Regions from separate parts of the Homo sapiens genome. Here all the other regions are linked to region 3. Evidence: fine-mapped QTL for protein levels in blood plasma. A gene starts in region 3. Each other region holds a variant in brackets. All regions are shown on one strand. Distances are between the middles of the regions. Region 1 overlaps HIVEP3 (HIVEP zinc finger 3). Region 2 overlaps SCMH1 (Scm polycomb group protein homolog 1). Region 3 holds the start of GUCA2A (guanylate cyclase activator 2A). Region 4 has its middle 26 kb from the start of HIVEP3. Region 5 overlaps HIVEP3 (HIVEP zinc finger 3).

The links. PIP is the chance, under the fine-mapping model, that this variant and not a neighbour inherited with it causes the effect. The UK Biobank Pharma Proteomics Project read protein levels with antibody pairs (Olink). The fine-mapping took linkage between variants from a reference panel, not from the people measured, so its PIPs are less certain.
Region 1: its variant is fine-mapped to the plasma level of the GUCA2A protein (UK Biobank, PIP above 0.99).
Region 2: its variant is fine-mapped to the plasma level of the GUCA2A protein (UK Biobank, PIP above 0.99).
Region 4: its variant is fine-mapped to the plasma level of the GUCA2A protein (UK Biobank, PIP above 0.99).
Region 5: its variant is fine-mapped to the plasma level of the GUCA2A protein (UK Biobank, PIP above 0.99).

Annotation. Positions count from the first base shown.
Region 1 is chr1:41,884,978-41,890,083 of GRCh38, reverse strand. The region is part of intron 1 of HIVEP3 (HIVEP zinc finger 3); the gene reads left to right. Among named protein-coding and RNA genes, the nearest start is that of HIVEP3, 31 kb to the left of the region's middle. RefSeq lists a silencer at 1,761-1,970. The variant T/A (reference allele first, on the strand shown) is at 2,060.
Region 2 is chr1:41,227,597-41,232,702 of GRCh38, reverse strand. The region is part of intron 1 of SCMH1 (Scm polycomb group protein homolog 1); the gene reads left to right. Among named protein-coding and RNA genes, the nearest start is that of SCMH1, 12 kb to the left of the region's middle. The variant A/C (reference allele first, on the strand shown) is at 3,089.
Region 3 is chr1:42,161,805-42,166,910 of GRCh38, reverse strand. It overlaps GUCA2A (guanylate cyclase activator 2A), which reads left to right and starts at 2,166. Exons shown (of 3, transcript NM_033553.3): 1 at 2,166-2,273; 2 at 3,301-3,508; 3 at 3,941-4,221. The coding sequence starts at 2,199. The coding sequence ends at 4,005. RefSeq lists an enhancer at 1,342-2,306.
Region 4 is chr1:41,942,544-41,947,649 of GRCh38, reverse strand. It overlaps a transcript of HIVEP3 not described here. Among named protein-coding and RNA genes, the nearest start is that of HIVEP3, 26 kb to the right of the region's middle. The variant A/G (reference allele first, on the strand shown) is at 2,766.
Region 5 is chr1:41,789,369-41,794,474 of GRCh38, reverse strand. All of the region lies in intron 1 of HIVEP3 (HIVEP zinc finger 3), which reads left to right. Among named protein-coding and RNA genes, the nearest start is that of HIVEP3, 130 kb to the left of the region's middle. The variant C/G (reference allele first, on the strand shown) is at 3,146.

The DNA of each region.
Region 1 (5,106 bases), 280 kb after region 3:
CATGCCCAGTGGCACAAAGCTAGTCATTGGCCGAGCCAGGATTTGAACCAGGTACATCTGTTTCAGAATCTGTTCTCTTAACCACTGTGCTGTCACTTGAGTTGTTCATTGGATGGTGAGCAGATGGGGCAATGTTATTATGGTTAAACTATTATTGTTAATTCCGGGCAAGCCACTTGCCTTTCTAGGCCTGCTTCTTTGTTCATTAAGTGGGGAGCAGGGTTCTTGTGAGGATTAGATGGGAGTGATGAGTATAAAGGAGACTGCAAACCCTATCCAGAGCCATCACCTTGGGAGTGTCACCGTGGTAATCAGAGTCCGTTATTCCTACAGGAGCTCCATCCACAACTGCTCTGCAGGGGACAATGGGTGCCCTCATTCCCCACAGGGCTCCCTACCCTCTCCATCGATACACACTAACATATGGGAAATGAAGGCCCACCCTGCCGGGCTTTCATACTCTAGAATGCGTGAATTTTTGCTCTTGGCAGCCCATTAAAAGGGCTAGAGTCCCCCATGCTGTCCTTTGATGGTGGAATACAGGAGAGTTTAACCTCAGGCCCTGCAGGAGAGTTGAGGCAAGGTGTCCCTCCAGTCCCAAGGAGAAGGGGGTGCTGCCCTTCAGACTCTGCGTAGGTCTGGAATGGCAGTGGCTTTTGGGTAATGAGGTGGCAGTGTCGGGGACATTGAGAAGGTGGATGATGTTATTGTCAGTGACTCCACAACTCCTGCCTTTTGATATTCCAGCCACGTAAAGCTGCAACTAAGGTTTCCCAGCAAAGACTTGGAATGCAAAGCACACTTTAAAGTGTGTGAGTTTGTGTGTAGCAGGGGATGTGGGGTGGGACTGTGTGAGGTGTGGGGTGTGTGGTGTATGTGGTGTGTGTGTGTGTGAGATATGTGTGTTTGTGAGGTATATGGAGGTGTGTGTGATGTGTGAGGTATGTGGGGGGTGTGTGTGTGGTGCTTGTGTGTGTTTGGTGTGTGAGGTATGTGGCGTATGTGTGGTGTGTGTGGTGTATGTGTTGTGTGGTGTGTGTGTGTGTGTGTAGCGTGTGAGGTATGTGGTGTGTGTATGTGGTATGTGGTGTGTGTGTGGCATGTGTGGTCTTTGTGTGTGTGTGTGGCATGTGTGGTCTTTGTGTGTGTATGTGGCATGTGGTGTGTGAGGTATATGGTGTACGTGTGTGGGGTATGTGTGTGAGGTATGTGGTGTGTGTGTGAGGTATGTGGTATGGGGGCATGTGTGTGTGGTATATGTGTGAGGTATGTGGTGTGTGTGTGTTTGGTATGTGTATGAGGTATGTGGGGGTGCGCATGTGTGAGGTATGTGGTGTGGGGGGCATGTGTGTGTGTGGTATGTGTGTGGGGGGTGTGAGGTATATGGTGTGTATGTTGGGGGGTACATGAGGTATGTGATAACTGATTCTGGAGCTAATTTATCCTCCTTATTCTGTCAGGTGTGATCTGAATCATTTCCTTGGCTCACATCTGATGATGCCCTTATTCTCTACAAGGCCTAACACCTCAGTCACTTTAGGTTCTATTTCCTTTTTCCCCCTCTTTGGCCCCTTCTCAGCTGGGCTGTCCCTCTCTTCTCTCTGGATAGGCCTTCCTTTCTCCTCCTTCTCCTCTCTCCTCACATATCGGCCACACTCACCTGCAAACACTCTTCTTGAGAAGAAGGGCTTAGATATGTCTTAGTAAAGACTGTTTAAAATCAGCTGGGCTAGGCCGGGCGTGGTGGCTCATGCCTGTAATCCGAGCACTTTGGGAGGCCAAGGTGGGCAGATTACGAAGTCAGGAGATTGAGACCATCCTGGCTAACATGTTGAAACCCCATCTCTACTAAAAATACAAAAAAAAAAAAAAAAAAAAAAATTAGCCGGGCGTGGTGGTGGGTGCCTGTAGTCCCAGCTACTTGAGAGGCTGAGGCAGGAGAATGGCGTGAACCCAGGAGGCGGAGCTTGCAGTGAGCTGAGATCACGCCACTGCACTCCAGCCTGGGCGACAGAGACTCAGTCTCAAAAAAAAAAAAAAAAAAAAGTTCAGCTGGGCT[T/A]AACAGTAGAGCCTGGGGTGGGGGTGTGATGGGAGCATTCTATATCTCCACTGTCTGACTCAGAAACCACTGGCCACATGTGGCTATTAAGTATTTAAAACGTGGTTACTGCAACTGAAGGACTGGATTTTTTATTTCATTTCATTTTTATTAATTTAAATAGCCGCATGTGGCCAGGACCACCATTTTGGACAGTGCAAGTTTAGGGAATGTGACACCCAGAAGAATCAAACCAGATTCAATTATATTGTTTGGGGATTTGGGGCTATTTATCTTTAATCTGGGCACTTGGTTTTAACAGAGTCGGGATTTGTCAGTTGCATACTCAGGTCTTCAGAAAACCTCTTGCTGTCTGCTCAGGTGAGGTAGAAGCCACATGTGCTGGCTGCAGTGATGGTATCCAGTTTACAAATTCATCATCCTTTGACCTTCTCCACTAGCACCCTGACCCTTGTAGCCCAGGCTGCCCTATGGATGACTGGGCACAAATGTGTGAAGTTCAGGGGATCCCAAAGTCAGGGACCAAGTTCTCTAGTCCTGGGTCTGCCACTTCCTGGCTGGGAAAGTTATTTCACCTCCAGGGATGGGTTGAGATTTTGTAGGGCTTGAAGTTTAAGCAACTGGGGGACCTCTTTAAGAAAAAGAATATAAAATTACAAATACAAAATTAGGTACCATGGTGAATATTTATTTAGAATAAGAAAATAAATCACATTCAATATACGTTTTTAAAACCTGACATGTATCACAAACTTTATAAAATCCAGAAAAATAACAAAATATTTTTATTATTTGCCTGTGAAACCTCCATAATACTTTTTTCCCTGAATATATTTTGGCTGAATACACTTTGATCACCTCTTCATATGATAGTGATTTTGTAATTTTTCTAAAGGGAGGTTGCAAAGAAAATTTAGCTTTTCTTCTAGCATGACTGACAATATTTATTTTTTATTATTGATAGTTACATTGCATAAAACATGGCTTCAGACACAGACATCCACTTTTTTTTGTTTTACTGCCATAGGTTTGGGTCCTACAATACAGGAATTTTGATAAAATATATTTTGTGTAATTCCCACCAAAAAGGGGGAAAATGTCTGGTATATTTATAACTGTATTCATTATATTATCAAATACATTTCTGATAGGAGAAAACTTTCTTTTTCGAATAGGCATCAGTGAAAACTAAATTTTCCTTCAATTCCACATGTCCAAAGACTGGAAGAAAGTTCTATGCTCTAGCTTCTGGCTCTGTATAGTTCTTTTTTCTTTTCTTTTCCTTCTTTTTTTTTTTTTTTTTTTTTTTTTTGAAATGGAGTTTCACTCTTGTTGCCCAGGCTGGAGTGCAATGGCGCGATCTCAGCTCACCACAACCTCCGCCTCCCAGGTTCAAGCAATTCTCCTGCTTCAGCCTCTCGAGTAGCTAGGATTACAGGCATGTGCCACCACACCCAACTAATGTTGTATTTTTAGTAGAGACAGGGTTTCTCCATGTTGGTCAGGCTGGTCTTGAACTCCCGACCTCAGAGGATCCGCCTGCCTCGGTGTCACAAAATGCTGGGATGACAGGTGTGAGCCACCGCACCCGGACCGCTCTGTATATTTCAATCCTATTTTTTCTCCCCTATTTTTATGTCTCAGGTGCCAGGTATTGCACCTTTGAGTCTCAAAGCCATTGAGTTGTGGAAAGCTTAGCACTGGAAGCCATGGGGACAGCTAACAATCACTTGACTTTGCATTAACGTGACTGTGAACAATAGACATAAATCCCACTACACCCAAACTAAATTTATCCCCAAATTAACTTTCCCTTATGCTGGATCCCAAAACACCTATAGCTACTGTAACACCATTCAATATGAACATGAGGGGAAATGTATCAGGAGGAGACATCAGAGTTGAAAGATACAGTGCTCTTCATCAATTGCAGTTAAAATATCTTACTACTGCAAATTTCATTTAAAAATTACATGATTCTAAGAATATATTGCTAGGGCCTTGAAAGGGGTCCATGCTGGCAGGGCCCTGAAACTTTCTTCCTTAGCATCACAGTAAATCTGCACCTCACTGCTCTGAGCCTTGGGGTCTTCATCTTTAAAATGGGAAGAATAGGATCCATTTTATAGAATTATCATGGGTATTCAGTGTGCTATATTTGAAAGCTCGTTTACCTTGTGCCTGGGAAAGAAGTGCTCAGAAATAGGAAGGAAGGAGGGAAGAAGGGAGGGAGGGAGGGAATGAAAGGAAAGGAAGGGAATGGAAGGGAAGGGGGAAGGGAAAGGGGAAGAGGAGGGGGAAGGGAAGGAGGAAGGGAAGGAGGAAGGGAAGGAGGAAGGAAGGAAGGATTTTATTTTATTTTTTGACGGAGTCTCACTCTGTCACTCAGGCTGGAGTGCAGAGGTGATCTCAGCTCACTGCACCCCCTGCCTCTTGGGTTCAAGTGATTCTCATGCCTCAGCCTCCGCGTAGCTGGAACTACAGGCATGCACCACCATGCCCAGTTAATTTTTATATTTTTAGTACAGACAGGGTTTCCCCATGTTGGCCAGGCTGGTCTCAAACTCCTGACCTCAAGTGATCTGCCTGCCTCAGCCTCCCAAAGTGCTGGGATTATAGGCATGAACCACTGTGACTGGCCCTTTTTTTTTTCCTAGCCATCTACTTCGAGTACAGTGGCCTGCTTTGAATTCAGTGGCCCCCTACCACTGAGCAGCCCTAGGGGATCCCTAACCCAAATAAGAAATGGGGCTGGAGAGCAGGAAACGGAAAGCTCACATGAATGAGAGCACCTAAGGGTACTTTGAGTGGTCAGAACTTGGTATTTTTTCTTGAACCAAGTCTTACTGCTCATGACTTTCCTATGCCATATGATTCAGGGAGATTGTGCCTGAGTTATGTGAAGCTCAGAGGAGATTCTGAGCAATATGAGACTGGAACATGGTTCTCAGCTGGTGCAGAGCTTGTATAATAAGGGACTGCTCTGTGGAGAGCATGGGTACTGGATGCCTTTGGAATTTGACAGCTGTATCCAATCCTCCGCAACA
Region 2 (5,106 bases), 930 kb after region 3:
TAAACACGTTATTTTTACCCACCTGCATATAGGTAGTATCACCTCTATTTTATACATAAAGAAACTGAGACTCAGAGATAGCTGGCCAAGATTATGCAGTTTATAAGTAATAGGACTTGGTTTCAAGCCCAGACCAGCCTGACTTCAACCCCAGTCCTCTTTTCATTTCACCATATATGTGCCCCACAGCAGTGTTATGTAATTCTGAGACTTTATCAGTACAGGAGGCAAAGTTTACTTGCAGGAATTGACACATATATTTTTAGTCTGAATATATCTTCTATCTCACCAAACAATGTCGGCAAACAAAAGATCCCTGGTTAGAAGAATGAAATGGTTTAGCAAATCAAAGTCATATTTATTTTTTAATTTGAGCAGATATATGACTAGATTCCTCGTTAGGATCAGTGCTCATATTTTAATAAATTATAACATTTCTGTACCCCTTCAACCTTTGGTTTGCAGTTTTTCAACCTTTACCAGCTACATACTAAGGATAAAAAGGTGAGAATAAGATAGGGTTTCTTCCCTCAGTGGGTTTTACTATTTAGGTGACAGATATAATAACTTTACCTAAGATCTCTTCCTCCCCAAAAGCCATAACCTGAGTCTAATCATGAGAAAACATCAGATAATCCCAACTGAGGTACATTTTATAAAATTTCTTTTTTTTTTTTTTTTGAGACAGTCTTGCACTGTCACCCTGGCTGGTGTGCGGTGTGTGAGATCTTGGCTCGCTGTAACCTCCACCTCCCTGGGTTCAAGCGATTCTCCTGCCTCAGCCTCCTGAGTAGCTAGGATTACAGGTGCCTACCACCACACCCGGCTAATTTTTTGTATTTTTAATAGAGACCGAGTTTCGCTATGTTGGCCGGGCTGTTCTCGAACTCCTGACCTCGTGATCTGCCCGCCTCTGCCTCCCAAAGTGCTGGGATTACAGGCGTGAGCCACCACACCTGGCCTATAAAATTTCTAATACTCCACAAAACTGTTAAAGTCATCAAACAAGGAACGTTTGAGAAAGTGTCAGCCAAGAAGAGGCTAAGAAGACATAATGACTAAATATAATGTAGCATGGTATACTGGATGGGGTCCTGTCATAGAAAAGTAATCTCAGGTAAAAATTAGGGAAGTCTGAATAAAGTGTGGACTTTAGTTAATAAGGTATCAATATTGGTTCATGAATTGTAACAAATATGCCATACTAATGTAAAATGTTAGTAGTAGGGGAAATAGTACAGGGTATATGGGAGCTATCTGCAGTTTTTCTGTAAATCTAAAACTGTTCTAATAGAAAAAGTTTATTTTTAAAAAGTTATAATAAAATTATTCTAATTTTAGATGTTATTTCTTTGAGATTTAATTAAAACATATTTCTTCATAAAATGATGTGCCTAATTTAGTTGACTCATTTGATAATGACTGACAAACTGCAGTTTGTTGATAGATGCATGTGCCAGAATGTATACTAGGTGGATGTCATATGAACTTTTTCTGCCTCAGTTTCTTATGTATATAGTGTCAAAAACATGCCAAGTCCTAGTAATAGTGAATCCCAGTACAAAATAGACCACAGTTTGATCAGCTGTCTCATAGCATATTATAAAGACGGCCAACCTCTTAACATGGTATATAGAATTCTACTGTTCTGTTCTCAACTTTGATCCAGTCAATTCTGTGTTTTAGGGACTATCATTTGTGCCACTCCCACAAACCAATTTCTAATCATATGGGGTTCTTTAATTTGCAAGCAATAATAATCTACTCTGGTTAACTTCGTTTGTAGCAGCAAGTCCCAAACCTTGTTGAATATCAGAATCGCCTGGAGAAATTTTTAAAATTAAAAGTACCATGTGCCAAAAAAATTATATTGAATTGGGATCTCTAAGGGGATAGAACATAGGAATTAATATTTTCTAAAAGCTCTCTAAGTAAGTCTGATACTTACTCATTGTTGCCAGTTTCAGTGAACAGCCCCCTAATTCATCTATTTGTTCAGGCCTAAAATCTGAGAATCATTTCTTTAATTTTTTTTTTTTTTTTAAGACATAGGGTCTTGCTTTGTTGCTCAGGCTGGAGTGCAGTGATGCGATCATAGCTCACTGCTGCCTTGAATTCCTGGGCTCAGGGGATCCTCTTCCCTCAGCCTTCTGAGTAGGTAAGACCTCAGGCGTGTGCTATGGAACCCAGCTAATTTTTAAATTTTTATTTTATAGGGATAAAGTCTTGCCATCTTGCCCAAGCTAGTCTTGAACTCCTGGGCTCCAGTGATCCTCCCGCCTCAGCCTCCTGAAGTGCTGGGATGGTGCCTGGCTGGGAATCATTTGTTAAATTATCTTTTCTCCATTTTTAGTTCATTGCTGATACCCCTTAGGACTACATCCTAAATATCTAAAGAATCTTTCTACCCCTCCCTCACCACTTCCTTCATTCTAGTCTAAGCCACCATAGTTCTTCTTTTGGACCATTATATCAACCCCCTATATGGCTTTCGTGTGTCTACTTTTGTACCCTATCCTCCACCAATGCGGTCACCACAGATCAGATCATATCTCTGCCTAAAATCCTTCAGTGGCTTTCCATTGCATTGGATATACAAATGATATTTTCCCTTGTGGTCTACATGATATGGAGACTACCTTCTTAGCCTCACATAGTGCCACCATCCCCTAGCTAAGTTCTAGTTACATTGGCTCCCATTTCATTTCTTGAAGATGTGAAGCTCTTTCCTGTCTCTCAGACTTGGCACATACTGTTTCATCTGCCTGGGAGAGTCTTCCCCTGACTCTTGATTCATTCTTAAACATTACCTCCTCATAGAGGCCATACTGACTGCCCTTCCACAGTCACTCTGTTAATTCTGTTATAGCACTTAATCACAACATGTAATTATTTATTTGCTTACTTGTTAAGTTCCATGAGGACATGAGGGCAGGGGTCTTGCCAATCTTATTTTTTTTTTAATTATACTTTAATTTCTAGGGTACATGTGCACAATGTGCAGGTTTGTTACATAGGTATACATGTGCCATGTTGGTTTGCTGCACCTATTAACTTGTCATTTACATTAGGTATTTCTCCTAATGCT[A/C]TCCCTCCCCCAGCCCTCTACCCTCCGACAGGCCCTGGTGTGTGCTGTTCCCCTCCCTGTGTCCAAGTGTTCTCATTGTTCACTTCCCACCTGTGAGTGAGAACATGCAGTGTTTGGTTTTCTGTCCTTGTGATAGTTTGCTCAGAATGATGGTTTCCAGCTTCATCCATGTCCCTACAAAGGGCATGAACTCATCCTTTTTCATGGCTACATAGTATTCCATGGTGTATATGTGCCACATTTTCTTAATCTAGTCTATCATTGATGGACATTTGGGTTGGTTCCAAGTCTTTGCTATTGTGAATAGTGCCGCATTGCCAATCTTATTCTTATATGTGACTCCTATCACAGTGCATGGCATATAATGCATTCATTAAAAAGTTAAATGAATTAATGAATCTTTTTTTTTTTTGGTAGGGGGTTGGAGTTTTGCTCTTGTTGCCTAGGCTGGAGTGCAATGGCACAATCTTGGCTCACTGCAACCTCCACCCCCTGGGTTTAAGCGATTCTCCTGCCTCAGCCTCCCAAGTAGCTGGGATTACAGGCATGTGCCATCATGCCTGGCTAGTTTTTGTCTTTTTAGTAGAGATACGGTTTCACCGTGTTGGTCAGGCTGGTTTCGAACTCCTGACCTCAGGTGATCCACCCACCTTGGCCTCCGAATGAATGAATCTTAACTGCCACCAACCTGGTCCAAGCTTCTGTCATCTCTCTTCTGAATTACTGCAGTTGCATCTGAACACTTTGCCTACAACTGCTCTGGGTCCCCTTTAATCATCTTCCACGTTGCTTTCAGGGTTAAATATTTAAAATTTTAAGTCTGATAATTATACTATTCTCTCTACATTCCTTTCTTTTTTTTTTTCCCCAAGTCAGGATCTTGCTCTGTCACCCAGGTTGAGTGCAGTGATGTGATCACGGCTCACTGCAGCCTCCTAAGTACCTGGAACCACAGGTGCGCACCATCACACCCAGCTAATTTTTTTTTTTATTTTGTAGAAATGGGGTCTCACCATGTTGCCAGGGCTGGTCTTGAACTCCTAGGCTTAAGTGATGCTCCCACCTCAGCCTCCCAAACTGCTGGGATTACAGGCGTGAGCCACTGTGCTTGGCTCCTTACATTGTTTATATGCTTCCTGCTGGTCTTAATGTAGCTTATAGAATGTTTTCTTTAATTATTTTTTAATTGTGGTAAAATATATGTAACATAAAATTTGCCATTTCAACTATTTTTAACAGTACTAAGTATAGTCACATTGCTGCGCAACCCTCATCACCATCCATCTCCAGAACTTGTTTCATTTTGTTAAACTGAAACTCTATCCATTAAACAATAATTATACATCCCATTGTGGAGTCCCAATAAGTAAGCAGCAAAGAGGAAGGAGCCACAGGTAGGGGAGAACAATGAACAATTGTTCTGAGAGACGGCTAATTACAAACAACCACTGGCACAACTACCTTGTCCTCATAGCCCCCTCCAGCATGACCCTGTAAAACTTCCCTCCAGTCCTTGCCTCTTTGTAGACAGCCCTTTCTCTGCTGTGCTGCCTATTGCACCTTTGCAACATATTTTCATACTTTCTCTAATAAATCTGCCTCCTTTTGTTTTGTTTTTGTTTTGTTTTTGAGACAGAGTCTTGCACTGTCGACCAGGCAGGAGTGCAATGGTGCAATCTCAGCTCACCAGCTCACTGCAACCTCCACCTCCAGGGTTCACATGATTCTCCTCCCTCAGCCTCCCAAGTAGCTGGGATTACAGGTGCACACCACCATGCCTGGCGAATTTTTTGTATTTTTAGTAGAGACGGGGTTTCACTATGTTGGCCAGACTGGTCTTGACCTGACCTCATGATCTGCCCGCCTCGGCTTCCCAAAGTGCTAGGATTACAGACGTGAGCCACTGCGCCCAGCCAAATCTGCCTTTCTTTACCTATAACTGTCTTGGTAAATTTCTTTACCACTTGTGACATAGGCCCCAGCTAGTTGCACCCATGGCATACATTCCTCCCTCCCTC
Region 3 (5,106 bases):
TCCTCAGTGTATACACACACATCAGCACTCACACACACCTCAGTGTATACACACACATCAGCACACACACAGCTCAGCACACACACACACCTCAGCACACACACACACCTCAGTGTATACACACACGTCAGCACACACACACCTCAGCACACATACGCACCTCAGCACACATACGCACCTCAGTGTATACACACACGTCAGCACTCACACACGTCAGCACACACACACCTCAGCGCATACATGCACCTCAGTGTATACACACACCTCGGCACACACACGCACAACACAGCAGATGCACTCAGCTCAGCATACACACACACACCTCAGTGCACATACACACACATATCTCAGTGCATATACACACATGAGCATACACACACACATACCTCAGTGCACATACACACACCCCAGCAGACACCCCAGCAGACACACATCCCAGCAAACACACACACCTCGGTGTACACACACGCGCCTGTGTATATACACACTGACACACACACACCTCGATGTATATATGCACACCTCCTTGCACAGACACAGATACCTTGGTGTACACGGACACACATATACCCCTCAGCATACACACACATACACCTCAGCATATATACACATACACTCCTCAGTGTACACACATGCCTCAGCACACACACACCTTCAGCACAAGCACACATACAAACACACCTTGGCTACACACACCCATCAGGGTATATACAGACACCTTGGCATACACAGACATACACATCTCCGCAGACACACCCCCCCTTAACACACACACACACACACACACACACACACTCACCAGAAAGGGGTGGGAAATCCAGTGCAGCTGTGAGGACTGCCCTGGGAGCTGGGCCAGGAGCTACCTGCCCCTCCCTGAGGGCCTTGTCCCTGCAGTTCCCTCCTGGTCAGGCCCTGCTCTCTCCAATTCCCTCTTCAGTGTTGACTCTCCCCACCCAGGAATTCCTGCCCAACCTCCCGCCCTAGGGCTGTCCTGGCATCGGGCCAGGTTGGCTGAGTAGAAAGATGACAATCCCAGGGCTACCCTTTCTCCTGTGTCCTGGGGATTCCTGCTCACAACAGCACACAGTGAATGCACGCTGCCCTGAGGGCGCAGTCTGAATGGGGTCAGAGTCTATAGGGGCGCGGGCACACCCAAGCAATTCCCCAGTGAGATCCGCGGAAAGGGGACTGTATCTGCAGGGGCAAGGGGGGCGGGCGGATTGGGGAGGAGCTCATTCGAGGACACCCTGAGGCTGCAGGGCAGGCAGGACAGGATGGGGACCAGCACAGGATGGGGACAGCCTGTGACTCAGACAGGCAGGAGGTCACCAGAGGGGCCAGGGAGGACCAGGAGCTGCTGTGGCTGCTAATAATATGGGAATGGACCTCTGCTGAGCACCTTCTGTGTGCCAGGCATTGAGCTAAATGTTTTTAAAACCTCACTTGATTCTCCAAACAGTAATGCCTACCACACACCTACCCCATGAGGTAGGTATTATTTTTGGTTCCCACAGGGGACACAAGGGACAACGAGACTCAGAGAGGGGAAAGCATTGGCCCAAGTTCACACGCCTCACAACTGGGCAGTAGGTGGAACGGAACCCAGGCTGTGCGGAGGGCTTCCTTGAGGTCGCGGCAATCAAACCCAGACCCTGACTTGCCCTGCAGCCTCCCCCGTGGAATTTCTCACATTTCCCTGAATATTCCAGGCCCGTCTCACCTCCTGGCTGTCCCTTTGGCATGAAATGGCCTTCTGTCCTCAGTCCCTTCTCTGGGAAAACTTCCACCCATTCTCCAGAGCTCAGCCCCCAGTGCAGCCCCGTCACCTCATCCTAGGATCACCCCACCCTAATCGCCCTGCGTTTCACTGTCGGGCTGGGCCCCCCTCCTCAAGGGCAGGGTCTGCCGGCCCCACACAGCAGCACAGGGCAGTCGTGAGTGAATGTGCCTTGTTGGTGAATGAATGCAGGACCCAGCCCGGCTGTGGGTCAAAGTAGGTGCTCAGGGAGGGGCCGGGGCCCCCCCTGCCTGGCTCTTATCTCCTAGGGCTGTCTCGAGCCTTATCTGATAAGGCCTGACAGGTGAGCAGATGAGACTGACAGAGGCTTCCAGGTTACTCAGTAACCTGCCCTCTTTAAAAGTCCCGCCGCTTCCCCCTGGCATCCAGAACAGCCACCCCTCTCTCGGGCACTGCTGCCATGAATGCCTTCCTGCTCTCCGCACTGTGCCTCCTTGGGGCCTGGGCCGCCTTGGCAGGAGGGGTCACCGTGCAGGTGAGTCCTGTGTCCCTACCCCGGCCCAGCTGGCTCCCTGCCCCTAGTGCCCAGGTCTGGTCCCCTGAGAGAGTACCTCCTCTTTGGGGCTGGATTGAGGGTGTGTGTCCCAGGCTTGGCCTTCTTCGAGGAGCTCCTGCTCAGTCCAGCCACACACACACCTTTCCCTTCAACTTTGGAGGAGAAAGAAACCCAGTGGAGGGAAGAGGAATAACCATATGGGGAAGGCGGGGAGTTGGCCAATTTACTGAGTGTCCTATGTGCCGGCTCCTTCCCCAGCCCCTCACTGTGGCTCCACTATCAACCTGGAAGAAAGGGATCATTAGTCCCATTTTACAGAGGGGAAAACTGAGCCTCACAAAGGTTCTGTAACAGGCCATGGGCACATGGCTGTGGGAAGTGCAGGAGCTGGATTTAAATCCAGACCTTACTCCTCAGTGGGTCCCAGGAACCACATGGACACCCTGGAGGTCCTGACAGATGGGTATGCCTACCAGTGCCAATGCTGGCGACAGGCCAAGCTGGCACCTAGCGGGGGCCCTGATCTCTATCAAAGCCAGATTCCGGGAGGCCTTTTATTGCTTCTCAAACCAAAACCAGGCTGCAGGCTGGAGCTGGGGGCCCAGTAATCAGCCGCACCGCTCTCAGGCAGGGGAAAGACAGCCTGGGCTTGGCCACGTGGAACTACGATGCCTGGGTGCTGGTCCTTTGCCTCTCCCTAAAAATCAGCACACTGGCTCCTACTCATTAGGCACCTATGGTGTTCCTGGAGCTTCACACCCATTTTCTCCATTCCCCATACAACATGCAGAATTTGCGGGTTCCAGAGTGTCCAGCATCACGGAGCCAAGCCAGGACGTGGGGCCTGAACTCTGCCCCTCACAGTGCCCCACTGTGGATCGCCTGGCTCCCATATGCCACGAACACTGCCTGTGAGCACCACTGGGCTGGACCGGGGCCAGCACGGGGGGCACAGCCAGGAAGCAGGCTGCAGCCTGGCCTCATGCTCTGGGCTTCTCTCTTCCAGGATGGAAATTTCTCCTTTTCTCTGGAGTCAGTGAAGAAGCTCAAAGACCTCCAGGAGCCCCAGGAGCCCAGGGTTGGGAAACTCAGGAACTTTGCACCCATCCCTGGTGAACCTGTGGTTCCCATCCTCTGTAGCAACCCGAACTTTCCAGAAGAACTCAAGCCTCTCTGCAAGGAGCCCAATGCCCAGGAGATACTTCAGAGGCTGGGTGAGCAGCCTCCTTCCTCTCTGATTGGTGGGGTTCGGGAATACTGTGGTGGCACTTGAGGAAGAGATGTGCTCTGATTGGTGGGATTTGGAGGAAGGGCTCAGCTCTGACTGGTGGAACTAGGGAGCTTGGCTCTGATTGGTGGGTCTGTTCCATGCCCACTTCAATTCCAAGTTGTAACTGCTGAGGTTTGGGAACTAAGACCATTCATCTGGTCTTAGTTTCCTCTCTTTCTGGTGGAATCTCTGCTTTGATTGGTTGGTTTGAGTGGTCTGTGTGCCCTGGTTTGGGGCGAAAAGCCCAGTAGGTCAGAGTACGGGCCTGCTGAGATTCTCCTGGGGCTGGGTGGTGACGTACAAGCTCTGGGCCAAGGGCGGCAGGGGCCTCGCGAGGAAATGCTGGTTCTCACGAGGCTCCATCTCTGTTGTGCAGAGGAAATCGCTGAGGACCCGGGCACATGTGAAATCTGTGCCTACGCTGCCTGTACCGGATGCTAGGGGGGCTTGCCCACTGCCTGCCTCCCCTCCGCAGCAGGGAAGCTCTTTTCTCCTGCAGAAAGGGCCACCCATGATACTCCACTCCCAGCAGCTCAACCTACCCTGGTCCAGTCGGGAGGAGCAGCCCGGGGAGGAACTGGGTGACTGGAGGCCTCGCCCCAACACTGTCCTTCCCTGCCACTTCAACCCCCAGCTAATAAACCAGATTCCAGAGTACTCTGGGTGTTGCCTTCCTTCCTTCCTTCATCCCCTAGTCTATCCTGCCCTGGAAGCTCGGGATGTAATGTACTAAGCGAAGGACCCCACTCTCCCTGCTAAGCTGCTCACTGTCCCTGGGGCTGCCACAACACAGAGGCGTGGAGAGGATCTGGATCTCCAAACCACCAAGGCAGCGGGTGGTGGGGAGGGTTTGCTTTTATTTCACATCTCCTGAGGTCACCAAGTTCACTGAGCCACATGTGAGCACGGGAGCCAGTCTGAGCTGGTTTGGACAACCAATACAGGCACTTGGCCCACTAGAAGACTGGCACCAAACTCTTGGGTATTCAAGGACTTGGCTCCCACCAGCCATGCTAGTGTGGCCTCCAGCCCTGACCACATCCCAAACCACACCTCTTGCCATTTCCTCTGCTGCTGCTCACCTCTCCACTGCCCGTCTTCCCACACTACTGTCCAGGCAAACTCCTACTCAGGGTCCAAGGCTTTCATTCCACGGCCTCTCCTCAAGACAACTTGCTCAACCCCCCAGGAAGAGTCTCAGTGCTCCCATTGTGACCTTGACCTTGGTGCTTTCTGGGCACTGTGATCACCCACAACCCTTGCACAGCTGTGGCCACCCTGTTGTGTAATGGCTTCTGTGCCTGGGGAAGTCTCTCTGACCTCCAGACCCACATGGATAATTGCATGAGGATATAAAACAGGGCAGGGGCCCAGCCACAGCTTTTCCAAGTACTGTGTGATCTTTGGAAAGTCACCTTCCCTCTCTGTGCCTCCACCTCTTCCTCTATAAAACTGGGACACTAATATTTCCTGCCTCCCAGGCTGGGTGAAATAATGCATATAAAGCCCTCAGTTCAGGCCTGACACAAACGTAAGAGGAAT
Region 4 (5,106 bases), 220 kb after region 3:
AGCTTAACACTGGGGCTTGGGTTAGGGCCTTCTTTAGGACCTAGAAAGCCACTTCTGCTTCAAGTGTTCATCTTACTAAATGGGTATTGGCTTTCTGAGTTTCCTTAATTAGTGTATGTAATGGCCTGGCTATTTTGCCATACCTGGGAATCCATATTCGGCAGAAGCCTGTTATGCCAAGGAATGCTCTTAGTTGCTTTAGGGTTTTGGGATGAGGATAAGCCAGTATGGGCTGGATACAGTCCTCACTGAGGGCCCTGGTGTCTTTGGATAATTTTAGCCCGAAGTATTTAACCTGTTGTGAGCAGAGCTGAGCCTTTGGTTTGGAAACCTTGTAGCCACAGGTGGCGAGGAAATTAAAGAGCGCTTGGGTGGCTTGATGGCACAAGGTTTCTGAACGGGTGGCTAAAAGTAAATCATCCACATACCGAAGGACAAGAGTGTCCAGGTATGAGAACTGGCTCAAGTCTTGGGCTAATTCCTGGCCAAATAGATGGGGTCTATCCCTGAACCCTTGGGGTAAAACAATCCAGGTGAGTTGAGATGTTGGGTTTGAAGGATCTTCAAAGGCAAACAAGAAGTACAGGGATGCAGAAAAAGGCATCTTTAAAGTCCAGGACTGTAAACCACTCTGTTTCCTCTGGTATTTGGGAAAGCACAGTATAAGGGTTAGGTACAGCTGGGTATAGAGGAACAACGGCCTCATTGATAATCCTGAGATCTTGTACTAGCCTCCACTGTCCGTTGGGTTTCTGTACTCCTAAAATTGGAGTATTGCAGGGGCTACTGCATGGTTTTACTAGGCCTTGGGCTTTTAGGTCCTTAACAATCTTTTGAGTCCTTGTAGGGCCTCGGGTCTAAGAGGGTACTTCCTTTGGTAGGGAAAGGAGGCAGAATCCTTTAGTTTAACTTGAACAGGACGGGCATTCTTTGCTTGTCCATATTGTCCTTCTATTGCCCAGACTTCAGGATTAATTCCTTCCTCAAGCAGGGGACAGCAAATGGGTGTTCCTTTTCCTATGTTCAGGTGTATAATGGCCCCTGCTTTTGCTAGAATGTCTCTCCCTAACAAGCGAGTGGGGCTTTCAGGCATAATTAGAAAAGCATGTGAAAAGAGTAAAGTTCCCCAGTCACAACTTAGTGGCTGAGAGAAGTATGTAGTGACTGGCTGTCCTAGGACCCCCTCGGATAGTGACAGATCTGGAGGACAATTGTCTGGGACAGGAAAGTAAGACTGAGAAGGCTGCGCCAGTGTCCAGGAGACAGTTAACTTCCTGGCTCTCAATGGTCAAACATACCCGGGGCTCTGAGGGTGATGGCATGGGCTGGCACTTGCCCCGGGCACCCTCAGTCCTGCTGCTGGATCATCAGGTTAGTGGCTTCTGACTCAGAGGACCTTCGTCCCCTGGGGCAGTAGGCCTTCCAGTGATTCCCTTGACATAAGGGGCATGGACGAGGGGCGGCTTATTTCTACTTGGACAATCTTTTCTAAAGCGTCCTTGTAGACTGCACTGGAAGCAAGCCCTATTAGGCATTCAATTTGCCCAGCTTTTCCCGTTTCCAGAGCCTCCAAAGTCCACTTGCCTGAGGGCCATGACTAAAGCGGTGGCCTTTTTTTAATCCCGTTTGTCCCGTTCCGCCTGCTTCTCCTGACCTCTATTGTAAAAATCTGAGGTTGCCAAGTTCAGTAGGGTTTCTAAGTTTTGCTCTGGGCCTAAGGCAGACTTTTGAAGTTTTTTTCTAATGTCTGCAGCTGACTGAGTGATAAACTTATCCTTTAAGATTAGTTGGCCTTCAGTAGAGTCAGGTGACAGAGAGCTATGCTTCCTCAATGCCTCCCTTAGTCTCTCCAGAAAGGCGGTAGGATTTTCTTCCTTTCCATGTATTATAGTGGACATCATTGAATAATTCATGGGCTTCTTCCTAGTTTTCTTTAGTCCTTCTAGCATGCAAGTTAGCAAATGTCTGCGGCACCAATCTCCATGTTCTGATTCTGTGTCCCAGTGAGGGTCTACACTGGGAACTGCCCGCTGGCCTGAGGGGAATCGTTCTCTTTCCTCTGTTGTCATCCTATCATTGACCTGACTGAGATACCAGAGATCACCAAACTCTCGGCCTGCAGTTATGGCGGCACTTCTCTCATTTGAGGTTAGTGTCTGATTTAGCAGTAACATTATATCTCTCCATGTCAGATCAAAGGATTGTCCTAACCCTTGTAAAACATCAATATAGCCATCAGGGTTATCTGAGAATTTACCTAGGTCTATTTTAATTTGCTTTAAGTCTGAGAGAGAAAAAGGTACATGCACTCTGCTGGGCCAAATTCTCCTCCTCCCACAGCTTGGAGGGGGCATAATTGGAGACTATTGGCACTCTTTGGTTCATTGTTTACCCCTTTGTCTATCTCCTTTTGTACCGTTTGGGTTGAAGGCGGGGTCCTTATTAGTTGGGGAAGGAGTCAGGGGGATGCTGAGGTAGGGAGGTAGACTCTGAAGGCTTCCTGTAGGGCATAAATCACACTTTTTACATAATTGTGAGTTGTCTCTTAATGAAAAGAAAGTTTGTACATATAGCACTTCACTCCATTTACCTTCTTTTCTACAAAAGAGGTCTAGCTGTAAGATGGGGTTATAATTTATACTTCTCTCAGGAGGTCAGGTTTCTCCCCCTTGAAGAGGATATTGTGGCCAGGCAGTACTGCAGAGGAATATAAATCGTTTCTTTCTTAGCGTCTGAGGGTCAAATTGGCCCCAGTTCTCCAGAAT[A/G]TATCTTCAGGGTGTTTTTGCCTTGGGGGGAATGTTTCCCATCTGAAAAAAGAACACAGGGATGCCAGCACCCCTAGTCATTTTCCGATGAGCATTAGTCCTAGAGCGTCCTCTATGGTCCTAATGCTTTTTCCTTTCCAGGGTGCATCACCACCCATGGACCTCTGCTTATCGGATTAGTGATGCTCACTGATGTAGCAGTCCTGCATCCCTTTTCCTGCCTTTCTTGACCACAAAGAAAGGGATCCGGGCTGCTGGATTCCAGTGGTCCTTTACCAGTGTGTCCAACATTGCGTTTGTGCTCAGGGGTGAGTCCTAGAGCTGGGCTGGGTTCCTGAGTATTTCATAGCAACCCAGCTGCCCCGTCAAGATGCATTCCCATAAACAACAGTTCTTATGCAAATTCGTTTCAGAGAGAGTGTAGGTAACATGGTACCATGTTCTAAGCAAAAAGCCGTCTCTTCCCTAGGTGATCCTTAATGGCTCTGGAGAGGATAGCCTTGGTTAAAACTTTGTTACATTAATAAAAGGAGCCAATATTAAAAGATATTCCCAAATGTCTTGTTTTCCTTGTTAAAATTGTTTTTAATTGTGACAAAATACACATAACAAAATTTACCATTTTAACCATTGTTAAGCATACAGTTCAGCGGCATTTAACACCTTCATATTGTGCAACCTGGTACTATCCTTCTCCAGAACATTTTATATCTTACAAAATTAAAACTGGACTTATCAAACAATAACTCCTACTTCCTCTCACCTCCTGCCCAGTCCCTGGCAACCATCATTCCACTTTCTGTCTCTATGAATTTTATTACTCTAAGTACCTCATATAAGTGGAATCATTCAGTATTTGTTATTTTGTGACTGACTTATTTAACTCAGCACACTGTCTTTAAGGTTCATCTGTGTAGTAGCATGTGTCAGAATTTCCTTCCTTTTTAAGGCTGAATAATATTCCATTGTATGGATATACCACATTTTATTTATCCATTCATCTGCTGATGGATATCAGATTGCTTCAATTATTTTTTCTGTTTTGTAACTAGAAAGTTACTCTTTAGCCAGATATTTTACATATTATCAAAAAGCTATGGCTTCCTTGAATTCTTCAGAATAAACATAAAATTTCCTGCCAATAACTTTCAGATGCCATAACCGTACTAATTTATGTTCTGGTAATAACTCTAGACACTGAGAATTTTAGGTTTCAAAAATAAATCAGAACTAGATTCCATTCTCAAAGAAGTATGGTCTAGCTGGCAAAATAAATTAGGCACACAGATAATGTTAATAGTTTGTCTGTGTGTAGAGAAGATGGAGAAGGGGGCCTCAGAAAGTGAAGTGGGAATATTTGGCTGGGCAGACTAAAGAGATCATTGAATTCAGGCTCAGGAATTTGGAGTCAAGGTAGGTAGTGGGAAGCCACTGAGTATTTCAGATTGTTTTGATTTTTATAGATTACTTTGTTTCTTTTCTATTTAATTTTTTAAAATTATGCAAAACATTTACATGATTTTGAACTTAAAACTATAAAATATGATACATTCAAAGAGATCCAGCTTCCACCTAAATCCTCTTCCCATTGTTCTTTCCTTTCTCCTATAGGTAACCCATTTTATTAATTTTTGGTTTATCTTTCCATTTCTTCTTTTTGAGAATATAAGCAAATATGTGGCTGGGCGTGGTGGCTCATGCCTGTAATCCCAGCACTTTGGGAGGCCGAGGCAGGTGGATCACGAGGTCAGGAGATCAAGACCATCCTGGCTAACATGGTGAAACCCGTCTCTACTAAAAAATAAAAAAAATAAAAAATTAGCTGGGCGTGATGGCGGGCGCCTGTAGTCCCAGCTACTTGGGAGGCTGAGGCAGGAGAATGGTGTGAACCCGGGAGGCCGAGCTTGCAGTGAGCCAAGTTCATGCCACTGCACTCCAGCCTGGGCGACAGAGCGAAACTCCGTCTCAAAAAAAGAAAAAAAAAAGAAAATATAAACAAATATGTATATATCTTCCTGTTTATATTAAAAAGTAGCATATTATGTTCATTCTTCTGAATTTTGTATTTTCACTTACATTCCTTCATAGCAATATATAGAGATTTTCCTCACTCCTTTCTGTGTCTGAGAATTATTCATATAATTCTCAGTTTTATGAATGCAACTAGTCCCTAATTCATGAACATTTGGGGGTTGTTTTCATTTATTTACTATTACAAATTGTGTTTTGACAAATAGCTTTGTGCATGTATCATTTTACATATTGCTAGTGTGTCTTTGGGATAGATTCCTAACTTAAAGGATCAAGGCTTAGGTAATTTGGCCATACATTGCAAAAAAGT
Region 5 (5,106 bases), 370 kb after region 3:
TTTTTACCTATAAGTTCCCCTTTCAAGGATTTATACTAGTAAAATAATCACTGATATGGATAAGGATCTACTATGGTTTGGCTCTGTGTTCCCACTCAAACTCACCTTGAATTTTAATAATTCCCACGTGTCAAGGGTGGGGCCAGGTGGAGATAATTGAATCATGGGGGCATTTTCCCCCCTACTGTCATTGTGATAGTGAATAAGTCTCTCGAAATCTGGTGGTTTTATAGATGGGAGTTCCCCTGCACAAACTCTCTTGCCTGCTACCATGTAAGCCGTCCCATTGCTCTTCCTACGTCTTCCACCATGATTGTGAGGCATCCCCAGCCATGTGGAACTAAGTCCATTAAAACTCTTTCCTTTATAAATTACCCAGTCTCGGGTATGTCTTTATTAGCAGCATGAGAACTGACTAATACAGGATTACTTACAAGGATGCTCTTCACTGTATTGTTTGCAATATTAAGAGACTGGAGACAATCTAAATACACAAGAATGTGGGAATTGGTTTTGTAAGTTATGGTGGGTACATCTATGCAGTTATAGATGTGTATATAAAAATATTTCAGTGACAAACACAAAAAATGTTTATAAGAGTATTTTCTGAGTGGTTGGATTACCAGTAATTTTTATTTTCTTCTTTGTGCATTTCTACGTTTTTCAAATTTTCTACACTGATGTTTCTTCCTCAAAGGGCCTATATGCTAAGACCCTTCTGGGCAAGTCACAGTACCTGTGGCTGACATAGTAAAAATTCTGAGTCCTTCCTGCAGGACAGAAATCTTTCTACTTTGGTAAACCAAAATATATTTCCCTGAATATATTTCATCACATGTTTTTTTTCTATTGCTTTATTCCCAGAATTATGCCTAGCATGTAGTAGACATTAAATATATATTTTGTGAATGAATTAATGAATTAATGCTTATGATGTGGTGGGAAAGGCATGGCCCCAGACCCTGGTTCACAGTGCAGCCTCCTCCCACCTGTTCTAATAGCCTCTCCAGTGGATCAGCTTCTCTGCCCCTCTGTGTGTGACCCTAGGAACTTTTGTGGCACCAGTCATAGGAAGCTGAGCTCCAAGAAGCAGGCAGAAGAGTGAGGTAAACCAGATTAAGAGAAGGACCTTTGAAGCAGTCAGAGAACCAGGCTTGAGCCACTTGTAGTGCTCTGCAGATAGAGAGCATCCCTGATGAGACAGGGGGAGCCCAGAAAGTTGGCTCAGGTATCAGGAGCAATTGGCATTCTTGGGGCCAGACTGCATGGATGTTCCAAGAAGCCCCAGAAGGCAGGAGGTCCCAAGTTCCCAGAACCCGAAGTCTTTGTGGTGGCATGTGATTCTGAGTATGTCCACTGCTTCATGGCACACAGTGTATGAGCCTCCCATGACAGGCCACTCCTGTGTGGGCTGATGCTACACTGATCATTAGCTTTCTGGGAGAGTGGCCCAATCGTTCTTCCATATGGTGGCCATTCACATTGGAAAGAGCAGAATCCAGGATCCCCTGAACATTCTCCTCTCCCCACTATTCATCCCATTGCCCTTGAAGGATACAGCTTCCATCCCTGCAGGGCCTTGGGGGAAGCAAGCAATATATTAAAACAGAGCTACTTTAAGTTACTCTGCATTTCTGGCTATGGTTCTGGAAGTTCTCCTTACTTTCTTTATTTTCTGTCCAGTTGTCTTCAGTGTATGCAATGAAGGTGGAGGGAAACTGTCATGTGTATGTTTGAGTGGCCATGGAAGGTGTCCTTTCTCTAAGTCAAGGTCACTGCTAGAGGGAAGGCCCCAGTCAGGGCAGCTCCTGTGAGGCTGCCCCACCTTCCTGCTCACTGGTCTCCTTGCAGCAGCTGTTTCCATGCTCCTTGGCCTTTTGTGGCTGTGGGGAGGGCAGGTTTCAGGATGGTGGCAGCTAAGAGTTTTTCCCTTCACTTTGAGAGCCTCCTGCCTCCAGCTGTGAGTGCCTGCTAAGTATGGCAGGGGAAGGGAAGCAGAGAGGGTCAGATGGTGACAGGCAGCACCACCACGGCTGGAGGAAGTCAGCATCCTAGAGAGAGAAGCTTGAAGGGAGGTTGAGTTGCACATTCATTTACCCACCCAACAGACATTTCCTGGTGCCTCCTAGGGCAGAATATGCTCAAGAGCAAGCCCTTTTGCCCTGCAGGAGCCCCCATCCTCTCCCAAGGACATAGCCCTGCCCCTTGGGCCAGAATCCCAGATGAAACCTTGCCTCAGGGGAACTTTCCCTGAACAACTTTACTTGTGCTCAGTGTTCCCAGGTCCTGGGCTACATGCTGGAGACAAAGATGATTGAAATAGCTCTTGCCTCAAGCAACTCAGGACCTCGGAGGTACAGGTGGATGACTAAATGATGACATGTTAGAGGGTTCATGGTAGATATTTGGGGGCATACGGAGTGGGAGGAATGGTCACTTCTGCCTGGGAGAAGTATAGAGAGTGCATCTGGAAAGGCTTCACGGAGGAGGTGTTCCTTGAGCTGGGTCTGGAAGGCTGAGCAGGTGTTCCCAGGTGGTCTGAGGAGGGATATGGAGGAGAGGGGGAAGGGTGTGATGCCTGAGAAAAGCATGATGCATTGAGGAAACTGAAATTAGATTAGTAGGTGTGGAGTATGGGGTTTGGGGGTGGGGAGGGGAAATGTGTGGCTAGAGAGGTGTGTAGGAGCCAAATCAGGAAATGACTTGTATGTCTGTTATATTGGCTAGGATTCGATTTTCTGCATATAACAACAAACTAAAATAACAGTGGCTTAAACACATAAGAGTTTATCTTCCTCTCTCATAAAAGAACCAAAGGGAGCCAGTCTAGCCTTGGTATATGGTAGCACCACAATATCAGCATTCCCAGGCAACTTCTCTCTTTGGCCTCTCCATCCATAGAGCATGATTTTCATTCTGAAGGTGACCTTGTGTCTAAGATGGCTGCTGGAGCACCAGCCATCACATCCATTATATATAAAAAAACTAGAAAAAGGTGGAAAGGCCATGCAGCCATCTGTGCTCCTTTCAATGAGCCTTCTTGGTAGTTCCACCCAGTGATTTTCACTTACATCTTATTGGCCAGGACTTAGTCACCTAAGCTGCAAGGGATGAGTGGAGGTGGGAGTTTGCAAAACAAAATGCT[C/G]TGTTTCAGCAAAGTGCTAAGGGGTTAGAAGGCATTTACCCAGCAAAGAAAGGAATGCAGTGTTCCAGGGATAAAAAGCAGCTAGTGCACAAATATGCAGGTGCAAAGGAGCCCAAGCTATTGAAGGAACAGTGAGCGGACCTGACTGGCTTGAGTGTAGACTCGTGTGTGTGTGTGTGTGTGTGTGTGTGTGTGTGTGTGTGTGTGTACACATGTGTGCCTGTGCTGTGGGGAGAGAATTATGGATAACTAAGGATGACTACAGGAGAGGGAATGGGGTTAGATGATGAGAGACTGTGACTGCAGTGGTAGGGAGTTTGGACTTTATTCCACAGGAAAGGGTGAATTGTGCAGAGGCTTTCAGGAGGAAGGTTAATTAGATGTGGGTTTTTGCAAGATCAGTCTATACACCAATGTGGGGAAGAAAATGGTACAGGGGTTGGGAGTCAGTATGGATGCATCTTGTCCATGGGGCCATGAGGGAGCATGGGATATGCTAGGACAAGTGTTAGGGACCAAGGAGATAAAGTTGGCTTGATGGGAAGGGGCCACATTGTTGAGGCCTGCAGATTTGCAGTGGTAAGAAACAGGGAGTGGCTGAAGGTTTTGTAGTCAGAGAGTGATGGGTGAACTCACAGATAGATAAAGAGCTTCCTACGTAAGGATTCTCCCATATCTTTGGCGGGAGGTACTTGCTCTTGCTCTTAGAGGAAGAAGAAAGGAAACTCACATTTAATCCTCACATTCTGTGCACTAGATTTACCACCTCTTATCTCAGTTTGTACATCTGAAAACAGAAGCACAGAGAGATTAAGCAACATTTCCAAGGTTACATGGTGTGTTAATCTGTTTGTATTGCTATAAAGTAATATGCGAGGCTGGGTAATTTATACAGAAAAGCGGTTTATTTGGCTCATGGTTCTGCAGGCTATACAAGAAACATGGTACTAGCACTGGCTACTGGTGAGGGCTTCAGGCTGCTTCCACTCATGGTAGAGGGCAAAGAGGAGCTGGCATGTTCAGAGATCCCATGGTGTGAGAGGGAGCAAGAGAGAGAGGGGAGGTGCCAAGCTCCTTTTGACAACCAGCTCTTGAGGGATAGGTTACCAAGCCATTCATGAGGGATCCACCCCATGATCCAAACACCTCCCACTAGGCCTTACCTCCACCACTGGGATCCAATTTCAGCATGAGATTTGGGGGAATGAACATCCAAATCATAGCACGCAGTTAAGAAGTGGCAGAGCCAGAGAAGCCAGTTCCACCAGCCTCTCTGACCCTGGAGTCAGAAAGTAGCACCTGACCCTGTTTTGTAAAGGAGTTGCTTTTACTCCATGGGATTATCTTGTTTGACATGGCAGAGGATTTGACCTGGGTGTTACGTGTGATCCTGTCTGATGACAAGCTGTCTATGCATAAGCTGCTTTTGTGTGTACTTATTTAAATGTGACCTTGATGAGTCTGTTGAGGGGGCAGAATGACAGGACAGGGAGGACAGGGCATGGGGCAACTGTCTGGTCCCAACCCAGCCGGTGACTACATTGTTGACCAAGGTCTCAGCTCACTACTTCCTGTTTAGAGTTTCCTCCTTATAGAACTAGAGGGCTCAGACTAGATCAATAGCTCCCAAATAGTCTGTGTGCCCCATCTTGGCAATTCATGACACACTAGCCTATCACCTACACTAGTATTTATTTATGTTCTTTAAATATGTTTACATTGATTTGTTTACTTAGCTTTGACCTAAACAATAAGGTCTGCCAAATTATGAGCTTGATTGTAATTTTCCGTAGGTCATTTTAAATTTTCTGTAGGTCATATTAAAATAAACTCATAACCATCACTTCTTAGCATTCTGGCTAAGATCAAGTGTAAAATAAACTCACAGCTGCAAATAAAATGCTAAAATTGGTTTTCATGACAATGGTAGCTCACAAACGTTGAACTCATGCCTTGTACGC